Linked DNA regions of Homo sapiens. The protein of the gene in region 4 interacts with the protein of the main gene of each other region in a biochemical or structural test. Each region holds a gene or a part of one and is shown on either strand. Other genes may lie near its edges. The genes, in order: DUSP16, MAP3K11, MAPK9 and MAPK8IP1.

The links.
Region 1: the proteins of MAPK8IP1 (region 4) and DUSP16 form a complex in vitro, tested with the Homo sapiens proteins (one study listed by BioGRID).
Region 2: the proteins of MAPK8IP1 (region 4) and MAP3K11 form a complex in vitro, tested with the Homo sapiens proteins (2 studies listed by BioGRID).
Region 3: the proteins of MAPK8IP1 (region 4) and MAPK9 form a complex in vitro, tested with the Homo sapiens proteins (one study listed by BioGRID).

The regions. Positions count from the first base shown.
Region 1 is NC_000012.12:12,472,069-12,476,282, forward strand, and holds the end of DUSP16 (dual specificity protein phosphatase 16), read right to left. Parts: 3' UTR 1,214-4,214; downstream 1-1,213. UniProt on the Homo sapiens protein: Dual specificity protein phosphatase involved in the inactivation of MAP kinases. Dephosphorylates MAPK10 bound to ARRB2.
Region 2 is NC_000011.10:65,603,510-65,611,641, forward strand, and holds part of MAP3K11 (mitogen-activated protein kinase kinase kinase 11), read right to left. Parts: intron 4,940-8,132; coding exon 4,759-4,939; intron 4,562-4,758; coding exon 4,413-4,561; intron 4,308-4,412; coding exon 4,132-4,307; intron 4,005-4,131; coding exon 3,761-4,004; intron 3,296-3,760; coding exon 3,182-3,295; intron 2,573-3,181; coding exon 2,437-2,572; intron 2,344-2,436; coding exon 2,252-2,343; intron 2,134-2,251; coding exon of another isoform or gene 2,084-2,133; intron 1-2,083. UniProt on the Homo sapiens protein: Activates the JUN N-terminal pathway. Required for serum-stimulated cell proliferation and for mitogen and cytokine activation of MAPK14 (p38), MAPK3 (ERK) and MAPK8 (JNK1) through phosphorylation and activation of MAP2K4/MKK4 and MAP2K7/MKK7.
Region 3 is NC_000005.10:180,281,251-180,289,382, forward strand, and holds part of MAPK9 (mitogen-activated protein kinase 9), read right to left. Parts: intron 5,818-8,132; exon of another isoform or gene 5,725-5,817; intron 1-5,724. UniProt on the Homo sapiens protein: Serine/threonine-protein kinase involved in various processes such as cell proliferation, differentiation, migration, transformation and programmed cell death.
Region 4 is NC_000011.10:45,895,350-45,903,481, reverse strand, and holds part of MAPK8IP1 (C-Jun-amino-terminal kinase-interacting protein 1), read right to left. Parts: intron 5,398-8,132; coding exon 5,292-5,397; intron 5,087-5,291; exon of another isoform or gene 5,011-5,086; intron 4,437-5,010; exon of another isoform or gene 4,391-4,436; intron 4,031-4,390; exon of another isoform or gene 3,947-4,030; intron 3,345-3,946; coding exon 3,030-3,344; intron 1,503-3,029; coding exon 1,421-1,502; intron 1,111-1,420; coding exon 298-1,110; intron 118-297; coding exon 42-117; intron 1-41. UniProt on the Homo sapiens protein: The JNK-interacting protein (JIP) group of scaffold proteins selectively mediates JNK signaling by aggregating specific components of the MAPK cascade to form a functional JNK signaling module. Required for JNK activation in response to excitotoxic stress.

The DNA.
Region 1 (4,214 bases), on a different chromosome or scaffold from region 4:
TATCTGGCCCCACCCACATCCTGCTGATTGGTAGAGCCGAGTGGTCTGTTTTGACAGGGCACTGATTTGTGTGTTTACAATCCCTGAGCTAGACACAAATGTTCTCCAAGGCCCCACCAGAGTAGCTAGATACAGAGGGTTGATTGGTGCATTCACGAACCTTGAGCTAGACACAGGGTGCTGATTGGTGTGTTTACAAACCTTGAGCTAGATACAGAGTGCCGATTGGTGTATTTACAATCCCTGAGCTAGACATAAAGGTTCTCCAAGTCCCCACCAGACTCAGGAGCCCAGCTGGCTTCACCCAGTGGATCCTGCACCAGAGCTGCAGGTGGAGCTACCTGCCAGTCCCACGCCCTGTGCCCACACTCCTCAGCCCTTGGCTGGTTGATGGGACTGGGCGCTGTGGAGCAGGGGGCGGCGCTCGGGGAGGCTCAGGCCGCACAGGAGCCCACGGAGTTCGGGGAGGCTCAGGCATGGCGGGCTGCAGGTCCTGAGCCCTGCCCTGTGGGAAGGCAGCTAAGGCCCTGTGAGAAATTGAGCACAGCAGCTGCTGGCCCGGGTGCTAAAAGCCCCTCACTGCTCGGGCGGTGGGGCCAGCTGGCTGCTCCGAGCGCAGGGTCCGCTGAGCCCACGCCCACCTGGAACTCGCACTGGCCTGCAAGCACCGTGCGCAGCCCCGGTTCCCGCCCATGCCTCTCCCTCCACACCTCTCCCTCCACACCTCCCGGCAAGCTGAGGGAGCCGGCTCCGCCTTGGCCAGCCGAGAAAGGGGCTCCCACAGTGCAGCGGCGGGCTGAAGGGCTCCTCAAGTGCCGCCAAAGTGGAAGCCCAGGCAGAGGAGGTGCTGAGAGTGAGTGAGGGGTGTGAGGGCTGCCAGTGCGCTGTCACCTCTCACTAATTTCCCCTTAGTTTATTTTTTGTTTAAAATGGAGTTTCGCTCTTGTTGCCCAGGCTGGAGTGCAATGGCGAAATCTTGGCTCACTGTAACCTCCACCTCCTAGGTTCAAGCAATTCTCGTGCCTCAGCCTCCCAAGTAGCTGGGATGACAGGCACCCACACCTGGCTAATTTTTGTATTTTTAGTAGAGAAGGGATTTCACCAGGTAGGCCCGGTTGGTCTCAAACTCCTGACCTCAGGTAATCCACCTGCCTTGGCCTCCCAAAGTGCTGGGATTACAAGCGTGAGCCACCGCCCCCAGCCTCCCCTCTTAGTTTAATTCCTGGTCTAATTGTAGTTGTCACATCCAAACCAGTCCTCCAACAATAGCCTGCTGAGGCTGGTCATGAAGGGGCTCCGAGCACTGTCAGCAACTGGCCTGAACTTCAGGCTCTCCCAAGATCTGCATCTTCTCATTGGAAGCCTCTCACTGAAACAACTGTTCCTCCTGTTACCCTCTATCTCTGGAGGCTGATTTATTCTAATTCCCTTTATTCCTCTATCTCACTTCCACCTCTTTTTCTGCAGGGTCCTGGCCAAGATAGCTCTTCTAGTCTAGCTCACCCGGCCCAATCTTTCTTATAAATTTTCTTAAATGTAACTTCAACTCAACCAACTTCAAGGTCACCTGTGATTCTTTCTGTAGTCAATATTCCATCTGTTTGCACTGAAGCTTTATTCCTTCAATGCCTAATTTTTATGAAACTGATGAGACTAAGTTTCTAGTCTCATAAGTCATCAAATCTAGTGTCATGAGCAGAGAGGTTGTTGAGATGTATGTGGCAAGGACAAAGGACAGCTCTTCAACAATTGCCCTTCCTGTTTTTCCTGTAGGAATCGTAACATCATTTACATGTTATATCGAAATGGGCCATGTGTGTGTAGCTGGCCTTTTTTTTCCTACCATGTACTTGTGTGTTCTGGAATCAGTCAGCTAGAAAATATTTACCAAGTGTCTTAGGCTTTTTCACTGTAGTGTGCATTTAACGTACACAGTAAAGAATGAAGGCTGGCACTAAACTGTTAGCTAATCATCCGGTGTTCCATGTGAATGACAGAACACGGAATAAACCTGATGACACCACCACTTTATTTTGAGCTAAATCCTCATTTAAGTGAGAACAGGACAGGTTTCACCACTGCCTCCTTTGGCAACTTGAGTGGTGGTGTTCCCACCGAGTTTATGGCTGCAAAGATAGGTCTTTTCTCGTATTTATGTATAAACAGGTACCAGTTTTGATTTTATTTAATCATTTCATACATTAACATACATGACACATCAAAATGAGAAATGCACAGTTTAACCGTTCAACAGCTGGCCTTACTTCAAAAGAACACTATATTCATATTAAACATTTACAGTCTTTCCATCTAACTTTACACATGTCCTAAATCATTTTCCAGCACTTCTCACATAGAAGTCTAGTTTTGCTCTTTAAAATCACCATCTGTATCACCCCTAGTAGACGCGAGGGTTTCCCCAATTACATGCTGAAGAGAGCCAGCCACCACCCCACCTAAAGACATCCAAGCAGCTCCAGAGCCTGCCTCCGAGGCCACCCCTTCGCCACGGCAGTCTCGATTCCAAGAACTGATTATCTGACACTAGTGAACCAGCACTAAAGGCTGTAGGATGTGACTACATCACAGTTCCAGAAGGAAGGGGGACCATGGCCAAGAGAAGCCCTAAATGACAGAAGCTCATTAAAACCAAGTCCCCCAAACCTCCTGAAACATCGTTAGCAAGGAGCTACTGCTTTCCTTTCTTAAACATGTTTTGGGCATGACCACACTCTGGAAGTGGTGAACTGTTACACATTTGGTGTGTGTGTACATAACATCAAAAACTACTGTGTGAAACTTGAGAATGTCTGATTAAAGATTTCAATGTATATCTAAAAACTAACTCAAATCGTTGACCAGCACTTTCCCAGTATCATAACAATGCGGCTGACCCTCTTCTGCCTTCACTTTACACCCCATCATAGCACATTATTTGTGCACAACTAGTGAGGTCTGTGCGGCTCATCATCCCCATAACCAAGTCGGTCTGTGTTGAGTCATATCATTCTGTGCTGGTTTTAGAAGTCACCATAGGAAACATGAAGTCACATCCTGGTCAAAAAACTGTCCATTTCTCAAAAACAGAGAAAAACCTGAGATACGAGGCAGCAACTAGCGACACTTACAGGAAGGGAAAGAACAATGACAACACCCGCCCAGCCCCACCCCCAAAAAGCTGCTGTTGTGAATTAAGGCTTCAAAAGAGGACCCACATTGTAGCTGATAAAACTCAAGCCAGGAGGATGTTTGAAAGCCAATCTGCACTATCACTTGTTCCAGTGACCTCCTATGTTCAGCTGCCAGGACCGATTCCATACAGTGATTGTAGGTTGAGGACTGAGGACGCCCCTTTGCTCTCGCTCCATTTTGATTTGCTTTTTCCACTGAAGACACGCCGGCCAGCGTTTCCAAAAACAGCTTGGCCATGGCTTTGCACTCTATTCACAACTGATCAAAACTCAATGGTCTTCTCAGCTTTCTCAACCGTTTTATTCTGAATATTCCTTCCTCACTAAAGCCTCTCTCAGCCCTACTAGTAAATGTGAAAGTCTGAGGCAATCATAGAAACATCAGCCCCATCGCATGCCGAGGGGATAAAAGCCACTAAGGAAACAGGTTTCCTGCTTCTCCTCAGCAATTTGTACCTTTCTTAATCTTCCCATAATTTACCTCCCTAGGAAGTTTCCTATAAAATTCTGCCATATTATTACATTTTACCAACTGTATCCATGCAGTGAAGCAGAAAGGGCAAAAACATCTGCTTTGGCTGAGAATTTGAAGGTGCTGCTGCTCTGCTACCAACCCAAATAAATTCACATTTGGCTTGAAACCAAGTTCATCTTTATTTAAAGGATTGACAATCCCATTTTAAACAATTCTTTGATTTACAAAGAGGGAGGTAGACTCGTTAGCCTCCCAACCTTAGCTTAAATCGTGATGTTGCCAGGTTCCTGGTGGTTCAGCTGAATCCTAGACAGTTTCCCTTCTCTTCATAAAGCTGAGAAGAAAAAAAAATTATCTCCATCTAGGCCCACGGGAATTTTGTGCATAGACAGTTTGAATTGGTCTGAAAAGTGTGACTAGCTACCTACCTATTCACAATGCCTAGAAAATGGGCTACCAGATATGGTAGTGGTCAAAGCCCCGACTTTCCTGTCTGAGGTACTGGGTTTGCTCTAAGGTAGACCTTGGCAAGGCCCCTAATGGTCCGT
Region 2 (8,132 bases), about 20 Mb from region 4:
CCCACTGGGGACAGGGTGAGGGTGTGTGTGACTCTCCAGTGGTATGGCTTATGCCGGGGACCATCTCACAGGGTCTGGGACCTCTGTGAAGCCCCATTATTTGATTCTTAGCTGGGTTTCGGGGGGTGGCTGTGAGGTCAATGTCATGTACTTTCATGGACCCAGATGATGCGTGGAGTGTGGGATTGGGCTAGGGGAACCAGATGCTCAGCCAGCCACTGAGCTGGGCAGCTGACATCCTTTCAGGGCAAGTGGCAATCCATTTCTTCATCAGCCAGGAAGGGCACTGGTGTTGAGGCCGACATACTTATCAAGAACAGTAACTACCATGGTTTCCAGTGCTTTCATGAAACCTCAGACATGTGGCCTTCTGGCCACACATCTGCAATTTCATATTGTGGGAGCATTCACTGTATCCCTGGGGGCTGCGGCTCTCTCAGTTTGCAGGGGCTGGACCAAGAAAGAAGGCATTTCAGATTTCTATGGGCACAGATGTCTACAGAAGTTATGATGCCATGAAATACTTCGAGGAGATGAGGAAGGCTGCTATCTCTCAGAATGCAAAGTGATTTTGGAATATGAAGAATTTCTTTGGGTTGAATTACTTAGAAGTTTGTCACTGATCTGAACTATTCATGAATATATGGGCTAATAAGTAGTTTCTCTTCATAAATAATTAACAAATTCTTTGGATAAAAAAACATGGGGCAAGCTTGAGAACGATGGGGCCCAGGCCCCTTGTGCCCCTGCTTCTGGGAGCTGAGGGCCAGAGAGTTCTGTGGAACAGTCAGGACCTGCTTCAGCCTACACACCTGGGTTGACAGGCTCTCAAGTTCTCCTTTGGCCCATCTGGCCTGGTACAATTTAGAGCAAGTGAATTCAAGAAGCCTCCTTGGCCTTCCAGCTCTCAGTTCAGTCCCTGCAGGACAGATGCTGGGGGCAGTGCAGCTGCTGGAGTAGCAAATGGCGGGGCAGATGGAGGCCCAGGGCTCTGCCTCTGTGGTCAGACAGGCAAGAGCAGATCAAATCCCTGCTCTACTGGTTGCCTTACATCAAACCACTTAATCTCTCTGTGCCTCAGTTTTCTCTGTTGTAAAATGCAGGCCAATACTACTACTCCCCTCACAGAACTGCTTGGCACATAGAAGAGAACCAACAAAGGTTAGCTGTTGTTACAACTATCAAGTGTAGCTCAGGGAATGGAAGAGGCGATGGGCTGGGTGGGATGGGAGGAGTGAGTTTAAACGGCTTGCTGAACAGGACTCTTCTGAGAGCAGCTAAGCGGGTCCTACATTCTGGCTGTGAGCAGCAGGTGTGGGGGCTCTGAGGATGGTCCCTAGGTTGGCACAGGGACCCACAGGCAAGGGAGGCCATAACTCTCTGGCCTCACTCAGAGCTGGGCAGTGTTGAGCTGAGTGAGCCCTCCTCCCTGCAATGCTGGAGCCCTGCCTTCTGCCTGACCCTCTGGCTTCCTAAGCAGTCTATACGTGAGAAGCCCTTTCTTCAAGTGAAAGCTTCTGAGCTCACTACGAGAGCATTGGAGCTGAAGCCTCTCTGGGTTCAAATCCTCAGCTGGGGGTTTGAGGTAGGTTACTTCACCTCTCAGAGCCTCAGTTTCCTTATCTGCAAAATGGGGTAATAGTAGCCCCTCTTCATCAATGCTTGGAGGGAATGCCTGGCACAGTAGGGCAGTTACCGTCATGGAGAACAGAAAGGCCCCGAGCTATCCTGGATGTGGTGAGAATGGGTCCTGGATCCTGCCTGCTCGGCCTTCTCATTCTCTTCTTCACCTACAGGCTCCCAGAAGGGGCTCTGAGAAGCACAGTGTGGCTGACACTTGTTTGGCTCCACCCCACACAGGCTGATTCCTTCCCCCATCTGGGTCCAGCTTCCCTTGGGTACCAAATGCCAGGTGGGCTTCCTGTCTTTCTTTTCTCCCTGGAGCCTGCTAAAGGCACAGGGGCTGCCATGGGGCCAGGGAAGAGGCTTCTTGCAGGCCAGGTCTGAGCAAGGGGATGAGACTCTGGGCCCCGAGCCGAGGCCTGGGCTGTATGCCGCTTGATCGTGGGCCTGTAGGTCAGACCTGGGTTCCAGGATCGGCTCTGTCTTGTCTCAGCCTTGGTTTCCTAGTCTCTAGAATGAGAGCAACCAGGGCAGGACTCCTGCTTTGCCTACTAGCCTATTGTGGCCTCCCCAAGGTGCCCACGGAAGGAGCTCAGCCAGATCCTGCCGGGGGAGGAAGGCCACTCACCATTGAGTGCTGGGGGTGTGGAAGGAGATCCTAAGGGGGATGAGTCATCTGAATCCAGGTACCATGTGGCTTCGTCCATGCGGGACCTTCTCCTGGTGATGGGAGGGCAAGGAGGGGTGCTTTAGGAATTTCAGGACTTGGGGAAAGCAAATGATGCTGGGTCTGGGGGGCACTCAGGTACTCACCTCCCATTCTGGGCTTCCCCAGGCTTGGGGGAACTGGGACCCCAAGCCCAGCATGCTCGCCGCTCTCCATTGCTTGAGTCCTCCAGACGTCGGGGGGACTGGCGGCCCCATGCCTGGCCTGGCTCTGCAGGCTCCACTGCAGGGGAAACCGATGAAATCGGAGATAATCTTTATTCTCCCTCCATCATCACAGTCAGGCTTCAGAGATAAACTTTAGAGTATGGGGAGCAGGCTGGGCCCTGTACCATTCCCAGGGTGAGCTTTGGGCAAGATAGATGGGTTTGGGTCTTGGGGCCAACAGTGGGGTGGGGCATCTCATCTAGCCCTTGGGCTGAAGTTTGCTGCTTAGTAATTAGTACAGACACTGACACCAACTGCCTGAGTTTGATTCTGGCTCTTCCACTTATTAACTGTGTAACAAGTTACTTTTTTCACTTTTCTCATCCATAAAACTTAAATTAACAACAAAAATAACTACCAAATAGAATTATTGCAAGAAATTAATATTAGCAAAGCATTTAGAAAATTAGTAGTACATAGTGTCATACAATTATTTGACTAAAAAAAAATAAGTAAAATTAATGCTGCTTGGGGAGTTCAGAGGTAACAGGCTAGACCTAAGGCAGGGAGCCTGGGGGCGGGGAGGAAGAGGGGATAGTGAGTGGGCTCCGCCTCCAAGAATAAGGTCTGACAGAGAATAAGGAGCTGGGGGGCGGAGAGGGGCATGAGAGGTGAAGTTTCTTACACTGGATGGCTCGGAACCGGGGAAAGGTGGGCGAATCCCCAGGCCCGACCTCGAAGACGTTTCTCCTCCGGTCAAGGCCGGGTGAGGCCTGCACGGTGATGCGGTGCTTGAAGTCTGGGATTTGGGTTGGGGGGAGCAGGGTTCAGGTTTGTGATGAAGTAGAGCCAGGACCCCAACCTGCAGGGGCCCAAGGCCAGCTCCCAGGCCACATAGGGAGCGGCACGATGGCTGTGAGACTGTGACCAGCCTCACTGCTTTCTTGAGCCCCTGGGTCTGGATAAGGAAAGCTACTCGTCTGAGTCGGAGATGCCCTGGCGCCGGCCGGCCCCGCCCACTAGACCTTCCCAGAACTTTCGTGAACCCCACCCCTTCCCACTCCCAGACCGACATGCAAATACTTCCGCCAGAACCCGCCCACAGACAGAAAAAAAACACTCCTGGCTCCACCCCTCCCAGCCTTCATCTCACGGGCCCACCCACAACACCCTAAACCAATCCCAGCGCGGTGAGCACACAGGCCTGGCTCCACCCCCACCCCCGCAGCCAATGGCGGGGGACGCCCCGGGGCCCGGCCCTCACCGAGTGGCATGCTGATACGCTCGCCGCCGTCGCGCGCCCGGAGCTTGCTGCGCTTGAATGTCCCGCGGCGGCGGCGCACGTGCGGTCGCTCGCGGTCCACCTGCTGCAGCAGCAGCGTCAGCTCGCGCTCGAACACCTCTAGCTCCCACTGGGCCAGCAGGTGCTCGCGCCGCCGCAGCTGCTCCGCCTGTGACCGCTGCTCGCGCGCCGCTCGCGTCAGCTCCTCCTCGCGGCTCAGTAGTTCCTGCGCCCGAGACAGCGATGGTGGAGAGGTCAGCCTGGCACCAATCCCGGCAGCGCCCGCCCCGACTCTGCCCCAGGGAGATCGGGGAGACACTCGTTCCAACGCTGGGTCCCTTGATTCCTCGCACCTTTTCCTTGGCTCGCAGCTCGTCGAAGAGACCCTGGATCTCGCGCTTCCAGCCTTCCTGCATGGAATGGAAGGAGTCCCGCGGCATTTCCCGTAGGACCTGTGCCTCCAGCGCCTCCAACTGCTGCAGGATGGAGGCGAAGTCGGGCCTGCGGTGGGGGTCCTGCGCCCAGCAGTCTAGGGGCACGGCGTGCAGCGGGGACAGAATAAGAAGGGGTCCGTGGGTGGATGTGTCCTGGGCCAGGGAGCTCTGTACCTCACCTGCCCTCCCCGTCCTCTTACCGGCCATAAGCTGTGCGAAGGGCTCGGGGCAGGTGGATGGGATGGGCAGTGTGAGCTTGTTAACAGCTACGCCATAGGCCACAGCAAGGCAGTCAATGCCACGGTATGGCACCTCCCCGGTCAGCAGTTCCCACAGCAGCACCCCAAAACTGTGGGCGAGACAACAGGTCTGTGTTCCCTTTTCTCTCCCAACCCCCACCCCCTTACTGCCACTTCACCCAAAAGCAACTAGGAGCCAAGTGGTTTGGGTCCCTGTCCCTGGACTTGGCCCAGCCCTAGATTTAGGCAGCCACCTCTGCCCTCTGCAGCCCCGTAGCAGCCCGTCCAGCCCCACCAAGGGCCGCACCTCCAGACGTCACTGCCCTTAGAGAAGGTGGAGGCCTTGATAACCTCAGGAGCCATCCAGGCGTAGGTGCCCGCGGCACTCATTTGTGTGGTTTTGTGCCACTCTCGGGCCAGGCCAAAGTCGGTGATCTTCAGGGTCTTGTGCTCCATGTCGTCACTCTCAATGGGCTGCAGCAGCAAAACTAGAGAAGAGGGGCCAGATTGTGGATGCTCCAGGATCAGGTGGTGGGGACAGGGTAAGAGCTGGGAGCAAACTCATCTGACGGACATCCTGGCTGGGTCCTGGGGGCACAGAGGTGACTTGGTCTAGATCTTGAGGACCTACTTGAGGTCAGACATTTCTTTTCTTTTCCTTTTTTTTTTTTCTTAAGATAGAGTTTTGCTCTTGTTGCCCAGGCTGGAGTGCAATGGCGTGATCTTGGCTCACTGCAACCTCCACCTCCTGGGTTCAAGCGATTGTCCTGCCCCAGCCTCCCGAGTAGTGGGATTATGGGCATGTGCCACCACGCCCGACTAATTTTGCATTTTTAGTAGAGACAGGGTTTCTCCATGTTGGTCAGGCTGGTCTCGAACTCCCAACCTCAGGTGATCTGCCCGCCTCGGCCTCCCAAAGTGCTGGGATTACAGGCCACTGCACCTGGCCGAGGCCAAACATTTCACACTCAACCCCAGCACTCAAAACCATTTATGAGCTAAATAATATTTTTCATGTTTCACAGATGAGGAAACCAAGCAGGGAAATGACTTGGCAGAGGTCATACAACAAATACAGCAGAGATTACAACCTGGTCTGTGTGGCTCTGAAACCAGTGTTCTAGCTTTTCCCTAATATTACACTGAAGCAAAACTGGCAAGGTGGCAGCTCTGGACATTTATGGCTTTGATTTCAAGAGAGATCTGTGAGTCTCCTGTCATTTTGTTGAGGCAGGAGCGTGAATCAGAACCCCCCTTAGAGTGGGGAGCAAGAGGGAAGCTCTTGGTGAGAAAAGAAGCCCAGCAGGTACCACAGGCCCCTAGTGCCCACATCACACTGTGGCAAGTGCAGCCACTCCCAAAGCAAAGACTCCAAAAGATACCTACCAATGCAGCTGGAAGGGAAGAGAAAGGGTGGGGTCCAAGAAAGTGATGGTTCTTGGCCACAAAGGAGGAGCTTGGGGTAAATGTAGGCGTGGATGGTCAGACTTGGCAGGGGCTCATGGCTTTAACCCAAATGGGGCCACCGTACTTGGTACAAAGAGGAGAAGCAGCAACTTGCATATCTCTCACCAGGACAGGAATGGCTCAAATGAGAGAAGTTTTCGAGGAATAGAAAGAGGACAAAGTCATAGAGTCATGAAGGGTCTGAAGGGCCCCTCTACTTTTCAGGTTACAGCCAACTGCACTGTGGAAGAGAAGCAATATCAAGTCAACCATGTTTCTGGACCCATGTCAGGGCACACCTCTCAGCTCTCCTGCCCTGTGTGACACGGCTGTCATGGGGGCAGCATAGGGCACAGGGGGTGGGGCAGATGGGAAGGGCACCTAATACAGCCTGGTGAGTCAGGGAAGACTTCCCAGAGGAGGTGGCAGAACCAGGGTGCTCATTTTTCAGGGCTTAAAGCAACAAGCCCTGATCCTGCTGCTGGCCAGGCCACCTGGGCCTTGAGGAGGCATCTGGCACTGCTGCCAGCTGTCCCCGCTGCCCCACCGTCCTCAGCCCCCACAGCCCCTGGCTGCTTGGCTCTGTTTCTGTGTCCTCCACCTTCAGCCATTTCGGCGCTGGTGCTTCTCAGAGCATGACCTCTCCTCAACCTCTGCCCACTGCCCCTGGCTGACTCAGCCTCTTCCAGGTACCAGCTCCCTCTCCCCACTGGCATCTTCCACATTTGCAACTCCAGGCCAGACAAATTGGTTCAGCAGCTCTACCTGATGTCCAGGTGCCCTCCATGACCACCTTTACTATCCCGGCATGCCCAGTAGATTTTCCTGCAATTTTTCCTAATCCAGAGAATGGTCTCAAAATCTACCCACTCCTCTGAGCCAGACCTTGGAGCTGAGTCCTGAACACTTCATCAAGCTGAGGATGACAACAAAACCCTCCTCAGATGGCTGTCACGAGCATGAAACAAGACCACACTTTTAAAGTTTTTGCATGGGGGCTGCCACCTGGCAGAAGCATCCTAAAGGCCAGTTGTCCTAAAGCACTTATCGTATCTCCGCCCTCCTCTCCCTCCTCTGTCACTCCTTACTGCCAACTTCAAAACAGCCTCTGGTCTGGCTGCTGGAGGCGGGGACCTGAGCATTTAGCAAGCCCCCGACGACAAGCTCATTCCAAAGGGGAAACACAGCAGGCTGGGGCAGTGGGTGGAGTGGAAATGGGCACCTCCCCTGGTGCCAGGGCCCACCTTCCCCTTTGAAGACCAACACTTGCTGCTTCTTGGCCTGTCTCTAGCCACTTGTGGCACCCCAGACTGGCAAAGTGCTGTTCCAGTATCTCAGGCCGGGTGGCCACTCTCCACCTTTTTCAGGTGGGGAATCTGAGGCCCAGAGAGGGGCAACAACTCACCCAAAGTTTCAGGACTTCTTTGTACTTGTGGTCTTTCTGCTACCTCCCCGCTCCTGGCTCTGCCAGCTGCTAAGCCCCATCCTCTGCTTTCTCTCCAAGCTCCTCTCTGTGCTTTCAACTGTCCCAACTCGAACTGCTGTTCTGGTGTCTGATGTAGATCCCAGGCATGGGAGGTCAGGGGTCACCCAGAGGAGAATGGGCCAGAGACCCCGAAACTGGGGGAAGCTCTCAGTGCCCCTTTAGGGCTCCCTGGCCTCTGATAGGGACCTGGCCACCAGCTCCCTCCCTGGGCTGGCCTCTGTGGGGCTTGGGAGTGGCCTGGGCAGCTCACACCTCTTCCGCTTTCCTCCCGTGGTCCCTACTTCTCCTTTCTGGGAGGCCTGGGCCAGGTCTCCCACTTGGGAGGGGGAGTCCTTTTGGGGAGAACTGGGGGAGGTCAGGCCCAGGCCGGGCTGGCTGGTCAGTCCTGTGACTCGTGGGCCTGGAGAATTCCCCCTCCTCTCCCCGCCAGGCTTCCTCACAAGGCCCCCATTGTCCAGGAAAATCATGCCATTGTTTCCTGCCTGTGCCCCCCACCAGCCCAGGGACTCCCCCCACCCCAATCCTGCAGACAGCAACTTGGGCCTAGGACTGGGGTCTCCGAGGTTAAATGCCAGGCTCAGGGAGGCTGAGGGCACCTTGCCTGCCCTTTACCACCACCTCCCAGACTCTGAGAGGGAAGCAGGGGAACTAGAGGGGAGTAGGGGAGCAGTTCCAGGCTCCTTCCTCCCGCAAGTCCTCCACCCCAAGCTCTTTCCTCCCCTGCAGGCAGCTGGGCTAGGGAGGGAGCA
Region 3 (8,132 bases), on a different chromosome or scaffold from region 4:
GGGTAGAGATCTGTATATGAAGAACTCTGCTGTGACTGACAGTCCATCATAGTAACACTAGGAAGTCTATCCACTATGTCTGAGTGTAGGCCAGCAGGCCCAGAAAGCAGCTTTTCTGTGGTTGAGGCACAGGCTGAGACTGCTGCTCTGCAGGAGCCTGGATGATTTTATACAGAAAACAAGCAAACAAATTGGCAAGTGGTTCCTAGGCTCGTGTCTGGTTATGCTTATTTAAAAGTCAGCAAGCTATTTATTTTGGTCTTTTAAAACTACATAGCCAACAATAAAATCATATAGGTAAACATTCTATACCGTTTAAGACTACAGAATGTATTCTACAGCTCTGTCAAATCCCTTGCCTTTATGTTCTAGTATCTAATATTTAACGTCAACCTAATGAGATTTTTGTGGTGATGATTTATATTTCAACACAAATGCTAGGATTTTCCTTAAACATGGAAAAAATGGATTAATAACAAGTCTAAATAAAGAACTGAGTCAAATTAATAATTTCTCCAAGTGACCACTGCCCCACGGTCTTCTCCCCGTCCTCTGGGTGGTGGCTGCAGTGTGGCTGCCACTCTGACCACTCCTGCCGAGGTGTGTTAGCGTGCCAGCCAGGGAGTGACTCCAGTGACGCCACAGCGCTTAGATGCTGGACAAACAGCTGCTCATACAACCCGCACCGCAGGAGTCTCAGTCCCGTGTTACCTGGGAGCAATCTAGGGCTGAGTGAGCTGGAACACCTGCCTAGCCCACACTGCTGTGAGAAGGGGACTCAGGAGCTCTCCAGGCTGGCAGGTCACTGTGCTCTAAGCTATAGGAGGTGCGAGGCAGGTCTGTCTTGCTCATGGCATCTCATACTCCAAGGACAGGAGGACAGGAAGCTGGTCTTTGGGGCACTGTGAGCATTCAATAAACCTTTGTTGATCTGATTCCCCACAGTGCTGCTCCATTTTACTGATATCTAAAGGAAGATCCTTTCTAAAGATTAGCTTATTTACAGTTTGCAAGAGGCTGAAACAATTCCACTCAACATTTAGGGGGTACCTTTATGCACGAAAGTGGTAAGTATAGCAAAAGATATGCCATAGTCAGCTAGCAACCAGTCTTGAAACAACATGTACTTCACTATTTGGGGGAGAAGCGCGAGCAGTGAGTCCATTATCTATATTACAAGTCACAGTGCGGTAAGGGCCATAAGCACAATGTAAACAAAATCAAAAGGCAAAAGAGATCCTACCCACTGGCAGGGGCAGAAGACAAGGACGGCTTCAAGGAGGAGGCGGCATCCGCCCTCAGACTCTTTTGCCAGAGATGGACAGTAGAGCCACAGAGCTCAAACTGACTGTGTCCAGACACAGCGAACTGCTGAGCTTGGCTAGCGGGGTACAAGTGCAAAGGATTAGAGACAACTCAGCAAAAAGGCAGGCACCCACTACCACCTGCTTTACGGAGGGTGGCTGTTCCTCTGCTATGCCGTCAACACACCAGCAACACAGTTACTTGCAAGCATGTACTGAGCACCCGCTGTGGATGGTGAGGTACCATGCCAGGACACTCGCCTGCCCTCAGTGAGCGCACACTCAGGAGGAGGCCCTGCACACCAAGGGTCCTAAACCCAGTAGGGTGAAGAAGATTTGGGGGAATGGGAGGAGAAGCAGCAGAGGCGGAGGCACATTCGGAATGTGACAAGTCACTAGGGACTTGCTGGGTAGAGGGCGAGTGAAGCTGGAGAGAGAAAAGGAGGCCAGATCACTATGAGCCCCAGAAGCCACGCAGAGCCGTCTGGCCTCAGTCCTGAGGGCTGTGGAAGCCGTCAAAACATCAGAGGTGCGACACAGGCGCTGAGGTGCTCCAGGATCCATCCCTCCCTTCCTCGCTTTCATAAGAGAAGCCTTCCTTCCCCTTCCTGCTAGATAAATGGCTGCCCAACTAGAGACGACGCCTGGCAGCTTTCCCAGCAGCCAGGTATGGCCAGATGACCAAGTTCTGACTAATAAGATGTGGGTAGAAGTGATGTATGCAACTTCCAGATCACTTTTATTTTTCTTTACAGAAAGCTGCTTGCCCTCCAATCTTTCTTCCTTGCTGCTGGCTGAGGGATCAGCTGTCACAGACCCAGAGATGGAAGTCACATGCTGTAGATGGAAAGCTGCCCACCAGCTGGATTCCTTAACTACCTCATGGCACAGAGCCACCCCCCATTCAGGACCCCGTGTCCACGTTGGGACTGACAGATCAATCTCAACCCTGCTGACCAACTCTGCAACTCTCCCTGCTATAACTGCTTTCAACCTATATTTGGACTATGACAATATTAGGTTAACTTTTTTAAATTTGGGGAGTATATTCACTCATATTAGGTTTTAGAATTGTAATTCCATCTCAAGATTTAAAATAGTCCGGGCATGGTGGCTCACACCTGTAATCCCAGCACTTTGGGAGGCCAACGTGGGGGAATCACTTGAGGTCAGGAGTTTGAGAACAGCCTGGCCAACATGGTGAAGCCCCATCTCTACTAAAAATACAAAAATTAGCCGGGTGTGGTAGTGCGTGCCTGTAATCCCAGCTACTTGGGAGGCTGATGCAGGAGAATCATTTGAACCGGGAGGTGGAGATTGCAGTGAGCTGAGATCGTGCCACTCCAGCCTGGGCCACAGCGAGACTCCATCTCAAAAACAAACAAACAAAAAGATTTAAAATAATTATAAAATTAAAATAAGGTACCCTTATTATGCAGGAGAAAAAAGTCACCTAAGTGAAAACCTGTTAAAGCCACCTTCTCTGTCAAGTTTGGGCTTTGTGAGAGCAAGAGAAAGAAACTTAAGGCCACCTGAGAAGGTGTGTAATTTAGCTATTCATGAGTCAACTCTATTGAGATGATATTTCAACAAAATGGACCATCAACTGGGGCTCAGAAAACAGTTTTACAAATCGGGAAGTACAAGAATTCTTCATGAAACCACATTAGCAATACACTAAAGCCTGCATTCGCTGCCTCCACTTCCCACACCAGCCGGTGCTGGTTCCTCCCCCTCAGCTCCCAGGCTGTGCTGCCACCATCCGTCCAGCACAGGGCTCCCTCCTTGCCACTTGTGCACTCAGCAGCGCCCGCCAGGCTGCACTGTCACAGCCTTTGTAGGGTCTGCCTCCCTTCCAGGCTATGAGCAACTCAAAACTGGGAGGGAACGCTACAAGGAGGTTTCCTGGAGGAGGCAAGACCTGAGCTCAAGTTTGTTCACAGTATCGACCGAGGCATGAGGAAACAGGCACTTTCATACACGTCAGTGAGAGCTGAGAAGTGGTAAAACATTTTTTTAGATGGAATATAGATCTGGCTAATAAAAATGTTAACTGCATATCCTAAACTGGCAAACACAATTCTCTAAGTGTATCTGACAAATACGTGTACAAGTATCCAAACATATTTGTGCAAGCATGTTTGTAACACTTCTTGTAACAGGCAAAAAACTAGAAGTAATCTAAAATGCACACTGTGGATGGACTGAATAAATTATGGCACAGAAGTACAACAAGGCCATTCAACAGAATGCAAGGACTTTATGTATCAATGTGGAAAGATGTCTAAGATACAGAAAGGAAATACACCAAGTTGAAGAAGAGAACACATAATGCCCAGCTACGTAAACACACACACACGCATACACACGCACATACACAATGCTGGCAAGTAGAGAAATAGTGGGAAATGAGAAACTTTCTTCCCATTATAACTTTCTATTCTGTTTTTCAAATGTACATATTTCACATTTAAAAACTGATTAAACAACACATGTTAAATGAAAAGCTGCAGAATGATCATTTGACACTTGTATGGAAGACGGGCTTCAGGCAGATAAGGCTAGAGGCATGAGAGTGGGCCTGGCTCTGAGGTACACATTTATCAACACCCTTATAACAACTAGTGAGAAGCATATTACTATCCCCGCTCTGCAAATGAGGAAACTGAGGCTTAGAGGAAGTTGTCCAGTAAGGAAGTTGTCCAAATTCCCAGCATGGCTCAGATTTGAATTTAGGAGTGTTTCACCACAATATTCAAGTTCCTCCCAAAGCACCATTCTGATATCCCTTTAGAAAGTGAAGCTATTTGCACATGGGCTGGCCAGGACCAGCACACAGTCCTGCACATTTCACCTTGCTGACTCCCCCTACCAAAACCTACCAAAACACTTTTTCCTCTAACGATGACAACGATTCAGTGATCCACAGACTCAAGTGAACCTTTCATCACACTAAAGCTTCAGAGTACCCAGGACATGCGATATTTAAATCAACTAACTATTGTGATTAAAAGCAGATTCTCACAATCACCCTCTGTCTCAATGCTTGCTGCCGACATTTTTTTCATTAAATTGTTCTGTTTTCCAGCTGGGCAAGATGGCTCACACTTGTAATCCCAGCACTGTGGGAGGCCGAAGGTGGGAGGATCACTTAAGCCCAAGAGTTCCAGACCAGCCTGGGCAACATGGTGAGGCTTCAACTCTATATTAAACAATAATAATAATAATAATAGTAAAAATCTGGCCGGGTGCGGTGGCTCACACCTGTAATCCCAGCACTTTGGGAGGCTGTGGCGTGTGGATCACGAGGTCAGGAGACGGAGACCATCCTGGCTAACATGGTGAAACTCCGTCTCTACTAAAAAAATACAAAAAATTAGCCGGGTGTGGTGGCGGGCGCCTGTAGTCCCAGCTACTAGGGAGGCTGAGGCAGGAGAATGGCGTGAACCTGGGAGGCGGAGCTTGCAGTGAGCCAAGATCACACCATTGCACTCCAGCCTGGGCGACAGAGCGAGACTCCGTCTCAAAAAAAAAAAAATAGTAAAAATTTAAAAAGTTCTATTTTCCTACTGTAATTCTTTATTCTTTCTTTTCTTTTTTTTTTTTTTTGAGACGGAGTCTCGCTCTGTCGCCCAGGCTGGAGTGCAGTGGCATGATCTCGGCTCACTGCAAGCTCCGCCTCCCAGGTTCACGCCATTCTCCTGCCTCAGCCTCCCAAGTAGCTGGGACTACAGGCGCCCGCCAGCACACCCAGCTAATTTTTGTATTTTTAGTAGAGATGGGGTTTCACTGTGTTAGCCAGGATGGTCTCGATCTCCTGACCTTATGATCCGCCCGCCTCAGCCTCCCAAAGTGCTGGGATTACAGGCGTGAGCCACCGCGCCTGGCCTCCTACTGTAATTCTTATGAAGAATAGCTTGGTATAACAACGTAATCTTTCTTTGATAATCAAGAACCTTGCAGCTCTCAGGGCCATCCTCTGTAGTTCTTAAGCCACAGTATATACCACAATACAGAACAACTAGCATTTGGTTATCACTTCACCCACTGTTGGATCCATAGGACCCTGCAAGGATCTCCGTCACCAGCCCCACTTCCAGGCACCCAGGCCTGCCTATTTCCCTCTCAATCCCCCACTCCCAGGGCCCTGGGTAAGGGCTTCTCGTGGCTCCTTGGACCAGCGACAGCAGAAGCATTCTCCCAGCCACCATTTCTGTGACTTCCGAACCACTGCACACATGCCACTTTAGAAAGAGAAATCACTCCACGTGAGAATATGTACACAAATGTTCACAGCAGCTTTATTTTTAATAGTGCCAAACTAGAAACAACCCAAACCTGTCCTTCAATGGGTAAATGGTTAAACTAACTGCTGTATACCCATACCATGGAATACCACTCAGCAACTGCTGAAACATACCACAACTTGGGTGGATCTCAGGGGCAGGATAGTCAACGAAAAAAGCCAATCTCAAAAAGTCACATCCTGTATAACTCCATGCATATAACATTCCTGAAAAGACAAAAGTATAGAGATGCAGACTAGATTAGTACTTGCCAGCAGTTATGAATGGTGGGGAAAAGGGGCTGCTGTGGCTGTAAGGGGGTGGGACAAGGAGATATCTGGGATGATGACATAGTTTTGAATCTTGATTGTGGTAGTGGTTATAGGAATTTTCACACGATAAAAAATGACAATGAACTCTATACACCTTGCTCCGATGCCCAATGTCCTGGTTTAGACATTTTACTACAGTTGTGTAAATATGTAACCGTGGGAGAAAGCTGGGGGAAGGGTACTGGGACCTCTCTGTGCCATTTGTGCAACTTCCTGTGAATCTATAATTATTTCAAAATATGGAAAGAAAAAAGAGAGATTTGTTGAAAGTGTGCAGTGATCACACCATTCTCCCATTTGAACTCCTTCAACAGTGACTGACTGCCTGGAGAATAAGATTCAGTTCCCTAGCACAGCACAGGAGATGGCAGTCCTCTGGCCCAATCTTAGGCAACATCAAACCACCTGGGATCAGCGGACACACCCAGCTACTGCACACCTTCAGGCCTCTGCCTAAGCTGTTCCATCTGCTTGAAATGACTTCCCTCCCCTTTTTGACCTGCTGGTCAACATTCACCCTCCTTCAAAAATCTAGTTCAAGCACTTGCTTCTCTTACATGTTTCCTCCTCCAGCCTTTCCCTTCAAACCATGCTGGGCATGCCCCCATTTTTGCCACCCTCCCAGTATTCGCTTTAGATTGCATTCCGAGTCTACTTACACTTCTACTCTGTAAGGGCAGAAAATGTGTCTGATTTATTTCTCAATCCTCTACTGATTACACAGTGGGTGCCCAAAAAATGTTTGTTAAAGACAAAGCTAAATGGGAGAAAAAATGCGGTAGGGCAGCTGGGAGCAGTGGTTAAGATCGGGACTTTGACTTCAGACTCCCAGTGGGTCTGCTATTTATCTGGGTGATGTGCAGCAAGCGATTGCACTCATCTGCAACACGGACGAGCAGAGAGCCTCAGGGTACCTCTAGATAAGAAGTGCACAGCCCACTTAGGAAGGCATCTTGATGCAGGAATGCACCCTAAATCTGACGAAGCCTCGTCTAGATCCAATTACTAACTTACAGAGATTACAGAGAAACACATTCAATTACACTGCAGAGATGCAATCAATCAAATACCAACTATGGAAATGCTAAGGAACAACTCGATTGCTTCAACAAATAAACTACCAAGAAAACAAAGAAATAGGAGGGGGATCTATGGATTAAGAGAAACTTAAAAGACGTATCATCCAATCAACAACGTATGGCCTTCTCTTGCTCTACTTTCAAACTATTAAGGAAACCTAAAATTCATGGGGCAGCTGGAAATTTGAATATTGACTAGTTATTTGATGATATTAAGCAATTATTACTTTTTCAACTTTAAAAGAGTCAGTACCTTTAGAGACCTACCGAAGTGTGAAGTATAACTACTGTACACCTCCTGAGCACCCTGAGGTTGTGCCCGTATGTTTTACAGATGAGTGCAATCGCTTCTGCACATCACCCAGATAAGCAGCAGACCCACTGGGAGTCTGACTCAAAGTCCTGATCTTACCCACTGCTCCGAGCTACCCTACCACATTTATTCTCCCATTTAGCTTTGTCTTTACCAAACATTTACTGGGCACCCACTGTGTAATTAGTATCCCAAAAAATAATGAATGAAATGACATGATATTTAGGATTTGCTTGAAAATAATTATGGGTGGTAAGGGTGCAAGTGGATACCATTAGAGATGAAACAAGATTGGTCAGGAGTTAATAACTGTTAAAGCAGGACACTATTCTGTTTATTTTGTATATGTTTGAAAGTTCCCATAATAAAAGTTAAAATAAAAAGAATGATGTTGAAACTGGTTCATACAATCAAGTACAAAGTATCAGGAATTAATTATTCTGAAGGAAAATTATGTAAAAATGGCACCTTCCTAACCAAGTGTGAGGTGTAACTACTGTATGTATGTAGACCAAAAATAGTTGCCCTATTGGCAAATCAATAGTCTCAAGAAGAAAAAAAATCTGGTCTCTGTTTTATCTTATGCCTCATGAAAACAACTGGTTTACTCGCTATTAACTGGTTTGTCTGGTCCTTTTCTTTATCCAGAAAATTAAGAATATTTTATCTTAGACACATTCAAGTATCCCCTCTGTTGTTTATTTACGGGACCAAATAAACAGATTTTAATCTGTGAACAAATTAAAGTCCTGGCACCCTGAAAATTAAATTGCCAGGAAAATCAAAGCTGTCAAAAGAGAAGTCTATGCAAAAATAGT
Region 4 (8,132 bases):
AACTGCTGCCTGGCTAGGCCCAGCCAGCCCATGGCTCTCACCTGAATATGGCCCGGTGGGTCTGCTCCTGCTCCTCCCCGTTGATGATGCAGGAGAACAGCCCGAAGGACTCAGCACCTGCAGGTGAGGTGGTGTGGCTGGATGGGGGGTCGCAGCTCTGATCCAGGTTTAGCGGGGCAGGTAGAAGCCTCAGTCCTAACCAGATGGGGCCTGGGGTCGCCTCCCAGAACACTTCGCATTTTGGCTCTGCCCCCGCTAGGGACCCCCCCACCCCACTGCTTCCCCTTGCTGACTCACTGGAGGAGCGGGAGCGGCCACTCATGAAGACGTTCAGGAATTTCTTGGAGAAATGGACGTCGGGTTCATCAGGCGTGGAGTCCTCGGAGAGGCAGGCAGGGGGCTGGGGCCGCGGGGCCTCCTCATATTCCTCTCCGATGGCCGACTCATAGGGCGAGGAGACGGAGGCACAGTTGTCATAGACGGTGGCAGAGTCACTCTCGTCACTGTAGTCTCCGAAGCACGGCCGCAGGCTCACCAGCTCCAGCTGTGCATGCTCATCTACCACCAGCGTGTACTTGACAGAGTCATAGGACAGGGCGCTGGTGTCCGAGCTCAGAGAGGCCCGTGGAGGTGGCGGCGGCTCCCCCAGGCTCCCCCGCCACCCTCCGCCTGGGGGCTCAGCCCGCTCTGGGGACGACAGGCAGTCGAAGCCCTCTTCCTCTTCACTGATGGAGGGGTGCGGCCGCCCTGCCGTGGAGGGGTAGGCGGCAGGGTCTGGATCGGAGCTGACTGACATCCGGCTCTCAGTGGGCGGCAGGAAGGCGGAGGTGGGCTCTGCAGCGTCTGGGGGCCTCTGCACTGGGGTCAGGTAGATCTCCTCAGTGGCCTCTAGTCGCACATCGGCCTGGTAGTGGATTCGGTCTCGATGCGAGTGGCCCCGACCCCCAGGCGGGGCAGCAGGGGGACCACCCGGAGGTGCCATCTGGGTGGCTGTGCTGCGGCGGCAAGGGCTGTCGGTGGAGGTGCCTCGATCTGTGGTGGGGGCGGGGCCGCTCTGGGGGGGCAGCTCATCGCTCAGGCAGATGTGTTCATGCGGTGGTGTCTGCTCCCCTGGAGAGCAGGCAGGTCATGAAGGCAGGGGCTCTCTCCCAACTCCCAGCTACCTGCACCTGCCACTCTCAGCTTGGTGACACAGAAACCAAGACAAAGCCTCCCTGGGCAACAGGCCCTTCGCAGGCTCTGGGGCCAGTCAACTCACTCATGCCACCACTGATCTCAGCCCCTGGATGGGCTCGTGCAGGGATGTGGGTGGGCAGTTCACCTCTACTCAGCCCTTTGGAGACTGTAGGGTTTGCTCTCTGTAGTGGGGACTGAGTCAGGGCAGGCGGAGGTCCAGGTAAGGAAGAGGGCCCTGACTTACCTGTCTTCAGGGGTGAGGATGATCGAGACACCCGATCCTGCCAACTGTGCTTTTTGCCCAGAGAATTATTATTCAGTGTGTCCTGTGCAGGGAACAAAAGGCTCTTGTGATGGAAGTGGTCAACAGTGCCCGGCACAGGGAGGCCCCGGCCCTGCCCCCTCAGGCCATCCCTAGGGCCATTTGCTGTGTCCACCCCGCCTCCACTGTCAAAGGCCTCACTCGTAACTCTCCTCTGGAGCAGGCAGGAAGGGTGGCAAGTCACAGCCAGGCTTGCCGGCTCTGGATGGCCCTCCGCCTTGCTCAGGGAAGCTGGCCAACCCTCAGGGAGATGCTCTTATCAGCCTTAACAAAGGTGGTGATGGCCAATGTGTGTGGTGGCAAGAGGGGGAGGAGGCAGGGGAGAAGAGAAGCAGGAGCTCTCTGGAGACACAGTCAGACCCCCAGTCCCAGGTACTGAGGGTTACTTGGAAAATGCTCAAATCCAGCCCAAGTCAGAGACAGGTGACTCTCTGCTCTGGAGCTTGGGAAGTTATGGCCTAGAAGGGGTGAGGACCTTCTGGTAGAGCCTGGAAAAAGCACAAGGAAGGGTCTCCCTAGCAGCTGGCCTGGGGGACCAGGATGAATCATCCCAGTGACAAATCCATAACAGAGTTTTCCTGCACCCCCCACCACAGTGGCATGAGACTGAGGAGTGACAGATGCAGTTGTCAGCAGCCCTCCTTCCTGGATCTCCTGGGCTGCCCATTCTACATTCTCAGCCCTGGGACCCCTCCCCACAATGCCCACACAGGGCTCCCTCCACTCCACGGAGGCTCCCTCCCCTGGGAGCTCTCTCCCAAGCCCTCACGTTCCTGAGCCGGGCTGCCAAAAGCCATTCACAGGATCCTGGGAAAGGGACCAAGCCTTTCCCCGCAGCCCCAGCCGCCCCACCTCCCAGGAGCTCCTTGCCTGCACCGCTCCCGATGGGCCTGGAAGACAAAGGGCCACAGCCAGCTCCCCCAACCCTATTCAACTCTCCTTGGCATCCAGCCACCCTCCCAGGGGCCCTAGGTCCCCAACTTAGCCAAGCAGCTCCATCTCCCATTCCTCCCCCCTGCCTTCTGGGAATTCGCAGCTGCCCAGATCTTAAACTGGCTGTGGCCCCTGAGCTTCCCATCCCCACCTCGCCACGATCTCCCACGGCCTCCCCCACGATGACCATTTCAGATGCCCTTTTCTCCAGGCCCTGCTCCTGCTCCACTTTCACCAGGAGCCCCATATCCTAAAGGAGAAACCCTGTCACAGCCTGAGGTCCCAGGCTCCAAACCCTTCGAACCCCTCAAAGCCTCATTCTCTTAATTCCCTACTCCTCTCCTAACCCCAGTCCTTCCCTCCTTCAATCCCGCCTCAAGGCTCCAAGCCCGGCCAGCTGGACTCAGCCCCCTCTTCGTAAGGATGGTTCTGCCCGCTCCTCGGATCCCAACACCGGGAGCGAGCCACCGCGGCCCCTATGCAGGCGCTGTCCCCAGGCACTGGACCCGTGGGTGCCCCTTCCCGCTGCAGCCCCTCTGCGCTCCCCCTCACATCTCCGCGGCGGCCCAGGGCGCCGCCCCCCACGTTGGCGCCTCACCTGAGACCGCGGCACCTGCGGAAAGAGGTTGAGCGTGGTGGGCCGCTTGGGCCGGTACGTGTCCCCGCTGCCCGGGCCCTGGCTCTGGCCTTGGCTCTGGCCCTGGCCGCGGGACGCCGGCTCCTGGCCGGACTCGGCCTTGGGCGGCCCCGCTCCCGGCCGCCGGGCCGCGCGCTCCTCGTCGTCGTCCTCCTCGTCGTCCTCGGCCCCGGGAGTGTCCCCCGTCGCGTCGATCAGGTCCATCTGCAGCATCTCGGCCTGCAACCGGCTCCCCGCGCCGCCGCCGCCCGCAGAGAGCAGCCCGGCGCGCGGGGGCTGCACAGCGCACGGAGGGGCGTCAGGGGGCGGGGCCGGGGCGGGGCCGAGGCCGCTTGCACCGCCCCCCGCCCGGGCGAGTCCATTCTGTGGCGCGAAGGGGGCACGAGGGGAGCCGAGCAGGGGCCGCCGGAGACTGGGGCGCTCTCGCCCGTCCGCCGCGAGGAAGCGCGAGGCCGCCGCCTCCCCGATCCAGCCGTGCCTCTGACGGCCAGCACCTCCCCACAGTCCCCACCCCGGACTCCTTGCGCCCTCCCGTTCCCCTGGCAACGGCCGGTGACCTCACCGGGGTTGTAAGCCGAGCCCAGAGTGAAGTCACCGCTGTTGCTATGGGGACTCAGTGGTCGCCAAGGAGTTCGGGGTGGGGTGGGCAAGGGATGGGGGTTGGGGAAATAGTATTTGAAGGGGTCTTGAGGAAAACTGGAAAAACTGAGGCTCAGCCAAGCAAGGAACGGCGGAGACCTGAGAGGGATGGGAAGGAGACGCCGAGGGGGAGGGGCGAGCGGGGGCCAGGAACCAAGGCGGTGGCAGCCGCGCCCTAAGCCAGCTGGCCCGGGGCCCCTCCAGCCCTAGATCGGTCCTCCACGAGCCTGCCTTGAGGATGCAGAGCCCCATCTAGCTCCAGTTCTGCCGCCAACTCCCTGGCACCTTGGACAGATCCCCTGATCCTTCAGGCCCCCTCATCAGTTGAGTGGGGATAACACTACTGCCTCCCAGCCTCTGAGAGAGCTGAGTATTCACTGGAACGTGTGTGAAGCCCGCTGGAGCTTGTCTGAGGCCCCTTAGGGGCACACCTCTGGCCAGTAGTGCCTGGGGCCCCTGCCTAGCTCGGAGGCAACCCTCTCCAAGGCTCTGCTGGTGCAGCTGGGGGAGAGGGCAGGGTGAGAGTCCAGAACAGGTGCCTGACCTCTGAGAAGCTAAGTCAGGGCTCTGAGACCATTCCCCAAATCTAGAGGCCTCTGCCTCTTCCTGGCCTGGCCAGAGAGTGGAAGGTTGGGGTACTGGGGACTAGGGGATTATCCTCACCCCTTGGTTTCCTCTTGCAGAGCTTACTGAGTCTCTGGGAGTAGCAGGAGGTCAACACAGAGACAGGTACTCCCTCCCCAAGGCACACCTCACGCTCCTATGGTAACCACTCTCCTGACACCGTATCTGGCTACCCGCCCTCTTGGGGGCTCAGAGGAGCTCTGGGCTCTAAAACCTAGCCCTGTGCTCTGTCCTCCATTTCCTGGCAAGCCGGCCCCTTCTTCCTGTTCTGAAAAGACATAGTTGGGATCCCCATCTGACCCCAGTTACCCAGGTGCTGGGGACCTCCTGGCAGCATTCAGATCTTTAGGGACAGGAGAGAGCCATCTTCCCTATGACAAAGCCAAGGGGCCCAAACCAGCAGCAATGCTGGGCAAACCCCTCAGTGGGGGCCTTTAGGACTATAGGCCAGAGAGGGTCTGGGAGGCCGCGTGGTGCCATCTGTCTGGTGTAATAGCAGCCAGCAGCCACAGGAGCTATTCCAGGGGTGCCTTGGCTGTTTCTTCCTGCCCTAAAGCACTGCAGATTCCACCAGACTCCACCCTGTCTGCCTCAGGCCCTCTGCCAGGGCTGCTCCCAAAAGGATTCAGGGGTAGCCCTGAGTCTCCCTTAAGTCTGGTCCTAATTGTTACTGCCCTAGGTCTCAAGACTTCCTGGCCTCTCCCATCTCGTGGGCAGTTGAAGGAGCTACTTCCTGTCTTAGTCCCCGACAGCAGTAATAATAATAATAATACCAAATGAAATTCTGATTGTACACTCAAGACGTGCCAAGCAGTATACCTATGTTTCTTGCACATCATTTCATTTCATGAGGGTGCCAGCACAGACCTGAAACCCCCTTTGTCACTATGGGGATACCCTTACCCCTGTCCCTAGCCTTCCTGCCACCCCACTCAGGAGCTCCTGGGAGCTTGCCCTTACCCGTAAGGACAGGGTGTCTTTGCACTGTAAGCTGATGCCACACTCATCAGTGATCTCCGAGAGGTCTTCATCCTCAAACTCCTCCAGGCTGATGTCATGGGTGAGCCTGGTGGGGACAGGAAGCCAAAGTTACAACTCAGGGGCACTATGCCTGCTCACATCTCCCTGTTACCTCTTCCAGGGTGCAGCCTCTTGAAGGCCAAACACAGCCCCCAGAGGACAGGATTTGGGGTTCATCTGTATCAATGCAGGGGGTGGTCAGCAGGCAGGGAAAGAGCGAGGGGCTTGTGCCAAAAGGCAGTCCTCCTAGGGTGGCAGTGGAAGAGGAGGCTCCAGGTCACTCTGGCTCCTCCCTGGAAGCTGTCATTCTGTTGCCAACCAGCAGGCAGTGCTTAGAAGGCCCAACTGGTCAGAGCCTCCTCCCAGGGTCAAGGCAGGTGCCAAGGCCAGTTCACCATGGAGAATGTGGACTTGAGAAGAGCAGCCTGGAGTAGGGGAGCTCCCAGTGCAATCCCTGCAGTAGCAAGACCCGAGGCGCCGGCAGCAGCCTCAGAGGAGTGCCCCACGCCCCAGCTCAGGAAGACTCATGCCCCTTGAGCCCAGGGAACAAGCGAAGGAAAATCTGGTGTCAGTGTGGGTAGTTTCAGCCTATTCCAGAAAGGACTCCAGCCTCATGCTGTGCACTTGGTGGTCTCATCTCTTCAACCACAACATCTTCTCCTTATCCAGTGTAAGGACCCTGAACAGGAGGCTGCACAGATGGGGTCAGGAGAAGCCCCAGGTGGGACCAGAGGTGTTACAACCTTGGGAGACAGCTCAGAGCACCAGGGCACCAGAATACTAACCAGCTCCACTAGAACCCCCCTCTCCCTAGGCCAGCCCTGAGTCCCCACCTCAGAATGCAGGGCTGGGCCAGCCACTGCAAGGCAGCCTGTCTCTTGCTCACCTCTAGGTCCTGGGCACTCTGCCTGGCTTGCTGGGGGGGTGGTGGGGGGGTAGAACATTTAGGAAGTTGGGGAGAATGTATGAGCCTTTTCCCAAATAAGTCCAAGAAATTGAGGCACAGAGCAAGGGAAACCCACTAGTTCAAGGTCACCCAGGAGAGATGGTGGCTTAGCCCCCAGGGGAACCTAGGAGGCCCAGACTCCCTGCCACTCGCCTCATTCAGATCAGAGACCCTGAGCTCGATGGAGCTCACCCCAACTCGGTCTCCACCCCCGCCAGCCCCGGTAGCCCCTACCAGCGCTCCCATTGATCCTCCAACCAGCTGTCATTGTCTGGGCTCGAATCCATCTTCAGCACCAGCTGCATGGAGAGCCCTGCCCGGCCGGGGGGCTGCGGGGCCCCAGGGCTGCCCTCTCATGCCCGGAAGGGTGGGGGGGCCAGGGCTCAAGGCAGGGCTGGGGGCCTCTGGCCTCCACCGCTTGGGCCTGTCTTTCTGCGTCCTGCCTGCTGCAGAAGCCTGGGGAGCTCATTAAAAATAGACAGGCCAGGAGAGGAGGCTGCAGCTGCCGACCCGGGTCCCAGCCCCAGCTCTTCCCAGCGCAGCCCTCAGCTGCAGGCACCTTCCTCCCGGCTGGCCTGGCCCTTGCGCTGCTGCCGCTGTGGCCGCCTCCCTCACGGGATCAGGTTACTGCAATCAATGCCACTGGCTCCACCTGCCCTTCCAATGCCCCTGTCGGGGGCTGAGTGGCCCCCCCTCCCTGGCCCAGGCTTGTAAGTAGATGGCAGAAATCTAGGATGTTTCCCCCCAAAAGCCAGCCCTTGGTTGGCTTTAAAGGGCCAGTTCCCCAGTCAGGGTGCCAGGTGGGAGATGAAGGGGGGCTTCCCAAACACCCTAAGAATGAACACTCGGTTTGCACTGCCATAGGCTCAGCCCCCCGACCTCATCAGAGAGGCTTCTGTGGGCCCAGGCTGCATCCAAACTGGGTTTGATCTGGGCTGCCTCCTTCTGCAGCCAGAGCTTGAGCCTTCAGGACCCAGGAAGGCAGGGCCTATGGAAGCAGGAGGCACCAGAGCCACAGCTAAGGGCAGGCCAGTGTTTGGGCCCTTAGAGCAGAGCTGGAAGGGCTGCTGTGTGGTAATGAGCTTCCTCTCCCTTTGGAATGACATAAACAGAACCTGGAGGCCCCTGGAGGGCACTGCACAGAGGGGTGGGGAATGGGGGCTGGATGGACAAGGTGCCCTGTAGGGTCACGTCTGACCTGCAGCCCAAGGGTGGTGGTTCCCCAGGCCATGGGGAGGGTGTGGCTGGCCAGCTGGGGTGGAAGTGGGGAGGAGGGCCTGGCCCAGAAGCCAGAGCAGCCCTCCTCCGTCCGGCCAGGGCAGGGTGGCATCTCAGGCTCAGGGACAAAAACCCAGTGGCCAGCACCAAGTAAGTGTTCAATTCACACTGGTTGCCCAGATGGTCACCGAGAAGGCCAGTGGTGCAAAAGGGAGCCCCTGGTACTCAGATGGCATGGGAGAGCTGCAGGACCGCTGACCCAGAGGTGCCCTGAAATGCCCCTGCTCTGCCAGTGACCTCTGCACATATATATATATATATATATATATATATTTTTTTTTTTTTTTGAGACGGCCTTTCGCTCTGTCACCCAGGCTGGAGAGCAATGACATGATCTTGGCTCACCGCAGCCTCTGCCACCTGGGTTCAAGTGATTCTCCTGCCTCAGCCTCTTGAGTAGCTGGGATTGCAGGTGTGCATCACCATACCTGGTTAATTTTTGTATTTTTAGTAGAGACAGGGTTTCACCATGTTGGCCAGGCTAGTCTTGAACTCCTGACCTCAGGTGATCTGCTCGCCTCGGCTTCTCAAAGTGCTGGGATTGCAGGCGTGAGCCA